Homo sapiens: one gene and its partners. The protein of the gene in region 2 interacts with the protein of the main gene of each other region in a pairwise test. Each region holds a gene or a part of one and is shown on either strand. Other genes may lie near its edges. The genes, in order: PCYT1A, TNFRSF10D and MTERF4.

What was found.
Region 1: the proteins of TNFRSF10D (region 2) and PCYT1A interact in binary tests that used the Homo sapiens proteins (3 or more experiments, as listed by UniProt).
Region 3: the proteins of TNFRSF10D (region 2) and MTERF4 interact in binary tests that used the Homo sapiens proteins (3 or more experiments, as listed by UniProt).

The regions. Positions count from the first base shown.
Region 1 is NC_000003.12:196,267,127-196,270,726, reverse strand, and holds part of PCYT1A (choline-phosphate cytidylyltransferase A), read left to right. Parts: intron 1-185; 5' UTR 186-195; coding exon 196-312; intron 313-3,600. UniProt on the Homo sapiens protein: Catalyzes the key rate-limiting step in the CDP-choline pathway for phosphatidylcholine biosynthesis.
Region 2 is NC_000008.11:23,136,339-23,140,166, reverse strand, and holds part of TNFRSF10D (tumor necrosis factor receptor superfamily member 10D precursor), read left to right. Parts: intron 1-1,906; coding exon 1,907-1,979; intron 1,980-2,163; coding exon 2,164-2,297; 3' UTR 2,298-3,828. UniProt on the Homo sapiens protein: Receptor for the cytotoxic ligand TRAIL. Contains a truncated death domain and hence is not capable of inducing apoptosis but protects against TRAIL-mediated apoptosis. Reports are contradictory with regards to its ability to induce the NF-kappa-B pathway.
Region 3 is NC_000002.12:241,095,496-241,099,323, reverse strand, and holds the end of MTERF4 (transcription termination factor 4, mitochondrial), read left to right. Parts: intron 1-1,896; coding exon 1,897-2,081; intron 2,082-2,885; coding exon 2,886-3,326; 3' UTR 3,327-3,753; downstream 3,754-3,828. UniProt on the Homo sapiens protein: Regulator of mitochondrial ribosome biogenesis and translation. Binds to mitochondrial ribosomal RNAs 16S, 12S and 7S and targets NSUN4 RNA methyltransferase to the mitochondrial large ribosomal subunit (39S).

The DNA of each region.
Region 1 (3,600 bases), on a different chromosome or scaffold from region 2:
CTACTAGAGCCTGTGTTTTGTGAAGCTTCGCTGGTTTTGCCAGATGCCATTGGCTCATCTTGGTGAAGTGCAGCTGTAGAATTGGTATTTTGCTGAGTGTATCCACGTCAACGTCTCTGAAATACTGGTGACAAACTTTTTCCCACCCCAATGAGAAAATTTTTGTTTTCACTTTCTATGACCAGTTAAAAGAAGATGGATGCACAGTGTTCAGCCAAGGTCAATGCAAGGAAGAGGAGAAAAGAGGCGCCCGGACCCAACGGGGCAACAGAAGAAGATGGGGTTCCTTCCAAAGTGCAGCGCTGTGCAGTGGTAAGTGGAGATTAACCTGGCAGGGGGAGGGTAGAAACCGATATGACATTGATGATATCAGTGTTACATGTCTTCTGAAATAATGAAAAGAAGGAATAGTAAGTGTATTTTCACAGTCACTGGAAATCTGCTGCCTTTTTACTGGATTATGACTCACAGCTCAGTTGTAGAAGCTTTACATTGGGTTTAGAAAAAGAAGTGTTAGGAAAATATGGAAGTTGCATGTGTATTAGGCTGAAACTATTGAAATATGGCCAGGTGCGGTGACTCATACCTGTAATCCCACACTTTGGGAGGCTGAGGTGGGAGGATCACCTGAGGTCAGGAGTTTGAGACCAGCCTGGTGAAACCCTGTCTTTACTAAAAATACAAAATTAGCCGGGCGTGGTGGCGCATGCCTGTAATCTCAGCTGCTTGGGAGGCTGAGGCATGAGAATTGCTTGAACTCGGGAGGCGGAGGATGCGGTGAGCCGAGATTGCACCATTGCATTCCAGCCTGGGCAACAGAGACAGACCCTATCTCAAAAATAAAAATAAAAAGTAAATAAACAAATAAATAAAACTAATGAAATAGAAAAATTGGGGCTCTAGGCAGTGATTTGATCTTCGTATCATCTCATGGTGTCTAGTGCGTCTTTTCTGCTGTTTTTTCTCCCTCTATCATTCCTCCATCCTGTTACTAGTTGTATCTTAGATGAGAACCTTTTTCCGTTTATGCCTACCTTATGCTCCTTTATCTCTGGAAAATTATCTTTGTATTTCCTAATTATTGCCAAACCTTAGATGAAAGACCCCATTCCACACTGCCTATCCCATCTCAGCTTGCTACCCTTCCTAAAGCTTTCCTCCACACTGCCTATCCTGTCTCAGCTTGCTACCCTTCCTAAAACTTTCCATAATAAAAACATGTCAGAGAACACTTACACACAATTGAAGCTACTGTTGTTAATATTATTATGAAATCTGTGTTTCAAAATCCCAGTGACAGAATTGTATGTTTCTTTACCTATATTGACTATTAGCCATTGATCAAACTCAGTTTCCACTGCTTAGTTCTAGAGCTTCCCAGCCCAAAGGGAAAAATCTATTCTGAAACAGTTAATACTTATTCCAAATGAATGCTCTGTCTTGAGCAATAAAAGCAAATAATACCCTACAAATAGACAAGTGCCTGCAGGGCTGATATTGATCATAAGGGCAAGTATATATATTTGTTTCCTGTTGCATTTGTAACAAATTACCATAATACAAATATACAAATGAATTATCTTACAGTTCTGGATATCAGAAATCTGAAATGGGTCTCAGAGGGCTAAAATCAGGGTGTTGGCAGAGCTGGAGGGTCCAGGGGAAAGTCCATCTTCTTGCCTTTTCCAGCTTCTAGAGGGTTCCCACATTGCTTAGTGCTTGGCACCAGCCAGTGCTCACATCACTCTGACGATTGCTTCTGCCATGTCTCCTGCTCTGATTCTGAACCTCCTACTTCCCCTTTTCACTTACAAGGACTCTTGTGATTACGTTCGGTATACCCAGATAAACCAGAATAATCTTCCTTTATTTAATCATATCTGCAAAGCCTCTTTACTATTTTTATTTTTATTTATTTTTATTTGTATTTTTGAGACAGAGTCTCGCTTTGTCACCCAGGCTGGAGTGCAGTGGTGCGGTCCCGGTTCACTGCAACGTCTGCCTCTTGGGTTCAAGTGATTTCCCTGCCTCAGCCTCCCAAGTGGCTGGGATTGCAGGTGCCCACCACCATGCCTGGCTTACTATTTTTATTTTTATTTTTATTTTTAGAGTAAGGGTCTTGCTATGTTGCCCAGGCTGGTCTTGAACTCCTGAGCTCAAGTAGTCTTCCTATCTCGGCCTCCCAGAGTGCTAGGATTACCAGGCGTGAGCCACTGTGCCTGGCCTGCAGAGTCTCTTTTGCCATGTATGGTAAAACAGTCACAGGCTCCAGGGAATGGGTGTGGCCATCTGCAGGGGGGCATTATTCTGCATACTACAGCAAATAAGCTCAGAAAGTGACTCAGCAATCAACAAAACAGGGCATTGTTAGTTTCTGAATATTTCTTAGATAATTCAGATTAAAGAAATGGTGGTGTGTACCAATTCAGCAACATCACTTGGAGTAGGAACAAGTTATAACCAAATAGGTGATACTGTCAGCTAATCAGCCAATCACTGTAGCTAGGAATAAAGCAAAGGAAGCCAGTCTTTTCAGTGGAATGAGCTCTGAGAAAACTTAAATTTCTTGGTCTTTAGACTCTGGGAATCTTTTTTTTTTTTAAATTCTTCTGGGGAGTCTTAATGCTTTAAATTACTTTGCTTCATATATTCATGTGAAATCAGTTCAGTGACTTGCTGCTACCTATTCCACATTCCTCCCTGAAACACACAGACTATTTGGCATAGGTGAATGGTCAGAGATCCACCCAACAGCCTGGCCCACCTTAGTGAGGAGGAATGTCTGCTAGTAAACTTTCTGCCATCTCACTGTACACCTGTACTTTCTAGCTCTGAATCTCCTTTGAACTCTATAACAAAAGCAAGCAAGACTTTTTTCTTTTTTTAACAGCTTTATTGAGTTATAATTGACATATCATTTACAGTATACAATTCAGTGGTTTTCAGTTTATTCACAGAGTTGTGCAACCATCACCATGACCAATTTTAGAATTTTTTTCTTTTTTTTTTTGAGACAGGGTCTTGGTCTGTTACCCAGGCTGCAGTGCAGTGGTGTGATCATAGTTCACTGCAGCCTCAACTTTCTGGGCTCAAACAGTCCTCTCACCTCAGCCTCCCAAGTAGCTGGGAATATAGGTGCACATCACCATGCTTGGCTAATTTTTAAATTTGTTTTTGTAGGGATGGGGTCTCACTATGTTACCCAGACTGGTCTCAGTCTCCTGGATCAAGCGATTCTCCTGCCTCAGCCTGCCACAGTGTGGGATTACAGGTGTGAGCCACCATGCCTGGCCTGGGATATTTTTATCACCCCAGAAAGAAGGCCTGTACTCATTAGCAGTCACTCCCCATTTCCCCCCAGTCTCTCCAGCCTCTGGAAGCCACTAATCTGCTTTCTGATTCTGTGGATTTGCCTGTTCTGGACATTCATACAAATGACATCATACGGTATGTGGTCTTTGGGGCTGGCTTCTTTCACTGAGCTTGTTTTGAAGATTCATTCGTACTGCAACATGTACAAGTACTTAATTTTTTTTTTTTTTTTTTTTGAGACTGAGTCTCGCTCTGTCGCCCAAGCTGGAGTGCAGTGGCGCAATCTCG
Region 2 (3,828 bases):
CAGGCGCACACTGCCACGCCTGGTTAGTTTTTTGTATTTTTAGTAGAGGTGGGGTTTCACCGTGTTAGCCAGGATGGTCTCGATCTCCTGACCTTGTGATCCGCCCTCCTTGGCCTCCCAAAGTGCTGAGATTACAGGCGTGAGCCACCGTACCCAGCTACGCCCCGTTAATTTTTGTATTCTTTAGTAGAGACGGGGTTTCACCATGTTGGTCGTGCTGGTCTTGAACTCTTGACATCGTGATCCGCCTGCCTCGGCCTCCCAAAGTGCTGGGATTACAGGTGTGAGCCACGGTGCCCGGTGCTACTGATTTTTATACATTGATTTTGTATCCTGAAATTTTGCTGAAGTCGTTTATTAGTTCCAGGGGCCTTTTGGTGGAGTATTTAGGGTTTCCAAGGTATAGAATCATATCGTCCATGAAGAGTTTTCACTTCTTCATTTCATATCTGGATGCCTTTTCTTTCTTTCTCTTGCCTGAGTGCTCTGACTAGGACTTCCAGTACTATGTTGAATGGGAGTGGTGAGCGTGAGCATCCTTGCCTTGTTCCAGTTCTCAAGGGGAATGCTTCCAGCTTTGGCCCATTCAGTATGATGTTGGCTGTGGGTTTGTCATAGATGGCTCTTACCATTTTGAGGCATGTTCCAATGGGAACTTTCTAATGTTTTTTAACATCCAAAAGAGCAAACACCTCTTCCATACTTTTTCAAAATGTATTATTTTACCCAGATAAAATTTAGAATTAAAAGATTTCCTCCATCCTTCCCTCCCGAAAAACCTCAGTTGCCGTTTTATCAATTCGCTTTAAAATTAAAAATTAATCTAGAAACACTGAATATTTTATTAATATTCAGTATTTCCTTATCAAAGGAGATAACATTTGGTGTCAAGTATTTTATTGTAACTGAGTTGTGATTTGTGTTCCTCTTCAAATAAATTATTCCTGTTTCTTATGGCTGTTTAGTATTTTGTATCCATTATGAGTTGGATAACCTTGTAATTCTGTTTGCTAATTTATTGCATTTGCTATGTTTTTAACATTCCTCCAGACATACATTTCTATTTCAATATTGTAGTTTCATCTTAGGGGTTTTAAATGACGTTGAAAATAATGATTATTGTGTCTGCCCTCTTCCAAAAGTCTTGCCTCATTTTAATTTTCCATCTTGTTGCCTAGGCCAGACCTTTCAGAACAATATTCAGCTGTGCTTAGGGAAGGCAGGTGTTTGGGTCCTGATTTGATTTCTGGGGAAGGCCTCCAAAGTGTCACTCTTAGCAATGGCATTCACTTTTGGTTTCATATAGAAATTCTCATCATCAAGAACACAGCTTACTATTCTAAAAGGGTTTGAAAAAAATCAGAATTGCTGTTTAATTTTACCAAATGTCTTTCCAGCCTCCATAGAGACTGCCATTTTATTTAATTACGCTATTGATATGGTAGAGTACTGATGATCAAAGATCATTTACAGTCTTGGGATAAATCATTTTGTTAGGTTTTCCTGGGTGCTCTCATATATAGTCTGCCGAGACTCTGCTGGTAAGAATTCTGGAAGGAAGTGATCATTTCTTGTGAGGGTGGGTGGGAGTTGATTAGATGGGGCAGAAGGGGACTTTCTGGGGTGTGGCAGTTTCTATGTCTTGATCAGGGGATAATTACACAGGCCTATAGTCAAAGTTGGTCAGAACACTTACAAAGTGAGCATTTACTGCATGTCACTTATGTCTCAATGAGCCACCAGCACACAGAGCCCAAGAGCTATGGAGGACCAGAGGTTTGTCTCCATCTCCATGGAGACCCAAGAGGGAAAGCGCTGCAGGTCTCTTGCTGGCTAGTGGTCAGGGTCAGTACTAGACTGCAGGACTCCTGACTCTGACCAGAGCATTCCCCACTGTGTGTTACAGGAACAGGCAGAAGCTGAAGGGTGTCAGAGGAGGAGGCTGCTGGTTCCAGTGAATGACGCTGACTCCGCTGACAGTAAGTGTTTTGTGCCTTGAGACGCAGCAGGAGGACAGGGAATAGGGACGGTGTCCTAACTGCTGTCCCTATAGCTGAGAGGGCTCTTCTGGAGGTTTCACTGCTGGAAGCAGGGGGCCCCATGTCGATCCTGTGCTGATCGTCCTTGGAGCATTGAGACCCTAAATCTCTTCTCTCTTCTCAGTCAGCACCTTGCTGGATGCCTCGGCAACACTGGAAGAAGGACATGCAAAGGAAACAATTCAGGACCAACTGGTGGGCTCCGAAAAGCTCTTTTATGAAGAAGATGAGGCAGGCTCTGCTACGTCCTGCCTGTGAAAGAATCTCTTCAGGAAACCAGAGCTTCCCTCATTTACCTTTTCTCCTACAAAGGGAAGCAGCCTGGAAGAAACAGTCCAGTACTTGACCCATGCCCCAACAAACTCTACTATCCAATATGGGGCAGCTTACCAATGGTCCTAGAACTTTGTTAACGCACTTGGAGTAATTTTTATGAAATACTGCGTGTGATAAGCAAACGGGAGAAATTTATATCAGATTCTTGGCTGCATAGTTATACGATTGTGTATTAAGGGTCGTTTTAGGCCACATGCGGTGGCTCATGCCTGTAATCCCAGCACTTTGATAGGCTGAGGCAGGTGGATTGCTTGAGCTCGGGAGTTTGAGACCAGCCTCATCAACACAGTGAAACTCCATCTCAATTTAAAAAGAAAAAAAGTGGTTTTAGGATGTCATTCTTTGCAGTTCTTCATCATGAGACAAGTCTTTTTTTCTGCTTCTTATATTGCAAGCTCCATCTCTACTGGTGTGTGCATTTAATGACATCTAACTACAGATGCCGCACAGCCACAATGCTTTGCCTTATAGTTTTTTAACTTTAGAACGGGATTATCTTGTTATTACCTGTATTTTCAGTTTCGGATATTTTTGACTTAATGATGAGATTATCAAGACGTAGCCCTATGCTAAGTCATGAGCATATGGACTTACGAGGGTTCGACTTAGAGTTTTGAGCTTTAAGATAGGATTATTGGGGCTTACCCCCACCTTAATTAGAGAAACATTTATATTGCTTACTACTGTAGGCTGTACATCTCTTTTCCGATTTTTGTATAATGATGTAAACATGGAAAAACTTTAGGAAATGCACTTATTAGGCTGTTTACATGGGTTGCCTGGATACAAATCAGCAGTCAAAAATGACTAAAAATATAACTAGTGACGGAGGGAGAAATCCTCCCTCTGTGGGAGGCACTTACTGCATTCCAGTTCTCCCTCCTGCGCCCTGAGACTGGACCAGGGTTTGATGGCTGGCAGCTTCTCAAGGGGCAGCTTGTCTTACTTGTTAATTTTAGAGGTATATAGCCATATTTATTTATAAATAAATATTTATTTATTTATTTATAAGTAGATGTTTACATATGCCCAGGATTTTGAAGAGCCTGGTATCTTTGGGAAGCCATGTGTCTGGTTTGTCGTGCTGGGACAGTCATGGGACTGCATCTTCCGACTTGTCCACAGCAGATGAGGACAGTGAGAATTAAGTTAGATCCGAGACTGCGAAGAGCTTCTCTTTCAAGCGCCATTACAGTTGAACGTTAGTGAATCTTGAGCCTCATTTGGGCTCAGGGCAGAGCAGGTGTTTATCTGCCCCGGCATCTGCCATGGCATCAAGAGGGAAGAGTGGACGGTGCTTGGGAATGGTGTGAAATGGTTGCCGACTCAGGCATGGATGGGCCCCTCTCGCTTCTGGTGGTCTGTGAACTGAGTCCCTGGGATGCCTTTTAGGGCAGAGATTCCTGAGCTGCGTTTTAGGGTACAGATTCCCTGTTTGAGGAGCTTGGCCCCT
Region 3 (3,828 bases), on a different chromosome or scaffold from region 2:
GCAGGCAGATCACTTGAGGTCAGGGGTTCAAGATCAGCCTGGCCAACATGGTGAAACCCTGACTCAACTAAAAATAGAAAAATTAGCTGGGCTTGGTGGCACGCACCTGTAATTCCAGCTACTTGGGAGGCTGAGGCATGAAAATCGCTTGAACCCAGGAGGCGGAGGTTGCAGTGAGCTGAGATGGCGCCACTGCACTCCAGCCTGGGTGACAGCAAGGCTGTCTCAAAAAAAAAAAAAAAGATTTTATATAGTGTGACAGGAGCCAGAGGTGGGGAAAGAGCAGCCTAAGGTGAGATGGATTAGGGGAGGTTTCTGAGTATGTCAGTGTTCCTGGAGAGGACTGTATAATTTGGCTTGGAGGTGAGGAATAGGAGTGGCTTTCTGTGCAGAATACATTTTGAGAGGGAAGGAGGAGGAGTTAAGACTAGAAGAAAAAATTGAGTGCCAGGGCAGAGACTCTTGTCTGCCTTGTTCACCGTGGGATCTTCAGCACCTAGTGCAGTGGTGGGCATATGGTATGTGTTCAGTGGGTTGATGCTGATAATGTGATGTTGATAAATATGTGTACATATAGCATTTGATGTTTAAATCAACATGAAATGGTCTTAGTGCTCTGTCTCTGTGATGTGATGTCAAACCAACATCTCTTGTAAAGACTTAGATTCTAGTCGAGTGTTTAGATTTACTCTGGAACATGAGAGATCTGGCCAGGTTCCTGGGATACTCGTGGAGTGGCCTTCCCTTCTATTTATCCCCCACTCCTGCCCCCAACAATATTCACATCTCAAGGATGCTCAAAGTTCCTTGAATCTCTTTAAGGGCCTTCTGGAGGAGTTGGGGGTCTCCAAGGACCCTTACCCACTTTGACCAGAGGAGTTCCACTATTATTTCTTTGCATTATTGACTCTTCCTGGTAAGATGTTTTTTGAGGCAGTGGTAGAAGGTTTAGGATCCACCATTTCACAGCATCTCTACAGGCCTCCTTCTCTAGAAGATAAGAAAAAGGTAGCCTTGTATATTTTTCTTAACAGATTCTTACAGTGTAATCTAAAAGTCTAAATATATTATGTGTGGTGGTGATTAATTAGCAAACTCAGCACAGCCTTAAGAAATGAAGATAAACCTAAACTGAAATTCCTCACATATTAAGATAATCACTAACTCAAATGTTAGGAAAATTTTAATTAACAGTTTAAATAGTTGACTTTAAGTTTCCCATTACTGAATTTTGCTCAGCTATCCCTAGGAAGGCCTGGAATAGTCCCAGTTTACACCAGTTAGTGCGGTTTTAATAGGGCCTCTTTCACTCAAGGTGCCCTGGCTTGGAGAAGATATATGGTGACCCTGGTAACCAGGACGTCAGCATTGGTGTTGTGTGTCCTCATGATTACTATTATTGTTATTACTGTTATGATGACGATGGTGATGGAACTCCTTTTCATTGAGTTCAGCTTGAGAATGTTAGTTGTGAATGCTTCAATGACTATTTTATTATAGAAGGAAACATCAACCCAAACCAGCAATATGGAGGAAACTACTCTCCCATATTACTCTCTGATCTTTCCAGTAAATGCCTGGGAAATTCTTTTCCAAGTGAGGAGGGCAAGAGGAGACCCAAAATACAAAGTTGGCACCTTTCAGGTGGGAGGCCAGAATAAAGCAGGAATATAGGGAGGGAAGGATGGTGAGTCTGAGGAGTGTCAGGAAGTCAGTGGGGAGATGTATCATTTCCATGGTGCTTCTGGGAAGATAGATCTGAAATTGCCACTTGCTCTGTGGAAGGAGAGGATCCTTGTTTGTTTTTAAATGTGGACTTAAATTGGGTGCAGCTAGCTCCTTGAGTTTCTGGAGTATCCTGAAATTATATGCTTGCCTTTTTTGAATGTTCTGCAGGGAAATTAAAGAGGGTGCTTTACTGTTGCCCTGAAATTTTCACCATGCGCCAGCAGGACATTAACGACACTGTCAGGCTTCTCAAGGAGAAGTGCCTTTTCACGGTACAGCAAGTCACCAAGATTTTGCACAGTTGCCCCTCTGTTCTTCGAGAGGACCTGGGTCAACTGGAATACAAGTTTCAGGTGAGAATGACTGATAGCGTGATTAGCGTAGTTTCAGGTGAGAATGACTGGTAATGGGATTAGCGTAGTTTCAGGTGAGAATGACTGGTACCGTGATTAGTGTAGTAACAGCAAGTTTCTCAGGTTTTTCAAATGTAGTGAAGGTCAGTTATATGGATAAGAAGCCTCGGACACCTCATATTTGAGTGGAGGAAGTGAAAGACTAGATTCTCTGCATACATCAGCCAAAGAGAAATCTTTAATTTCTTTACTACAGATCAAACCTATTCTTCAACTTTTCTGCCATTAATAATGAATGATCCAGTCCTATTCTTAGAGTCTAAGTGGGGACTCTGAAATAGCTAATTTTAAAATAGCTGAAACCTTCCTGTCCTTAGAATCTATTTTGCATGTTGATTTTGAAAATGTAATTTTAACAGTTGTCCGATTTTTTGGTAATAATTATGACAACTTAGGTCGAATTTCTAGATGTTTTCTGAATGTTTTGCCTATTCTTTCCATATTCATCCTTTTCCTTCCCCATTTAAAGAAAAATACCACCTCTTCCTTCTGCCCCTTCTCCCTCCTGCCCCTTTTCCCTCCCACCCCTTTATTTCCTGCTCCATGTTTCTCAGGATGAATTTGAAAGTGTTTTGAAACTGCTGGCTGTCACACAAATGTCAGTATCCTAGACTGGGTATTCGCTGTTGTCAATTAGGCAATTCTTTTTGAATCCTTTTGTACAACTTAAGTTTTTATGGTTTATAGAATGATAGGTTTCAATACTCTGTATCTGGGACTCCTAAGTGTGTTTGTGTCTTCCAGTATGCATACTTCAGGATGGGAATTAAGCATCCAGACATTGTAAAGAGTGAGTACTTGCAGTATTCACTAACCAAGATTAAGCAGAGACACATTTACCTGGAGCGCCTGGGACGGTACCAAACCCCTGATAAGAAGGGGCAGACACAGATCCCTAACCCATTGCTCAAGGACATTCTCAGAGTTTCAGAAGCTGAGTTTTTGGCCAGGACAGCCTGTACTTCTGTTGAGGAGTTTCAAGTTTTTAAGAAGCTCCTGGCTCGGGAGGAGGAGGAGTCTGAGAGCAGCACATCTGATGACAAAAGGGCAAGTCTGGATGAGGATGAGGATGACGATGATGAGGAGGACAATGATGAGGATGACAATGATGAGGATGACGATGATGAGGACGACGACGAGGCGGAGGACAATGATGAGGATGAGGACGACGACGAGGAGGAATAGCTGTGATGGAAGGACTAGAGCGAAAGGGCCCAGAGATATCAAGGAAGCTTTTCATTCTCTTAAAGCTTTTGGGTCCTTTACTTGAATCTTCTCAAGTTATTTTTTATTCTAAAACTGGTCTCTTGATGAAAAAAATTATAAGTCACCTGAGAGGCAGACAGATCAAACCAAACAGGAAACAGGAAATGCATGTTTGATCTGTTGTCACGTGTCTGTGGGGAGGGCCCTGTCCCATCCTGAATAAGATACTTATGTTGAGCTATTCACATCAAGGGGACTCAATATATCAACAATTGGTTTTATTTTTTTCTCTTTTGAATATGTTGGTGATAATTCCGTGACAGTTGGAAGATGGGGTTCATTCTTCCGGTTCAGGAATCACTATGTATTTCCTTCTTGTGATAAAAATAAAATTACGAGAAGGCAATGTGAGGTTTTAGTACATCATAGCACTTTATTTTATGAAAACATGTAGCAGATTTTCCACAAAAATGCTTATTTT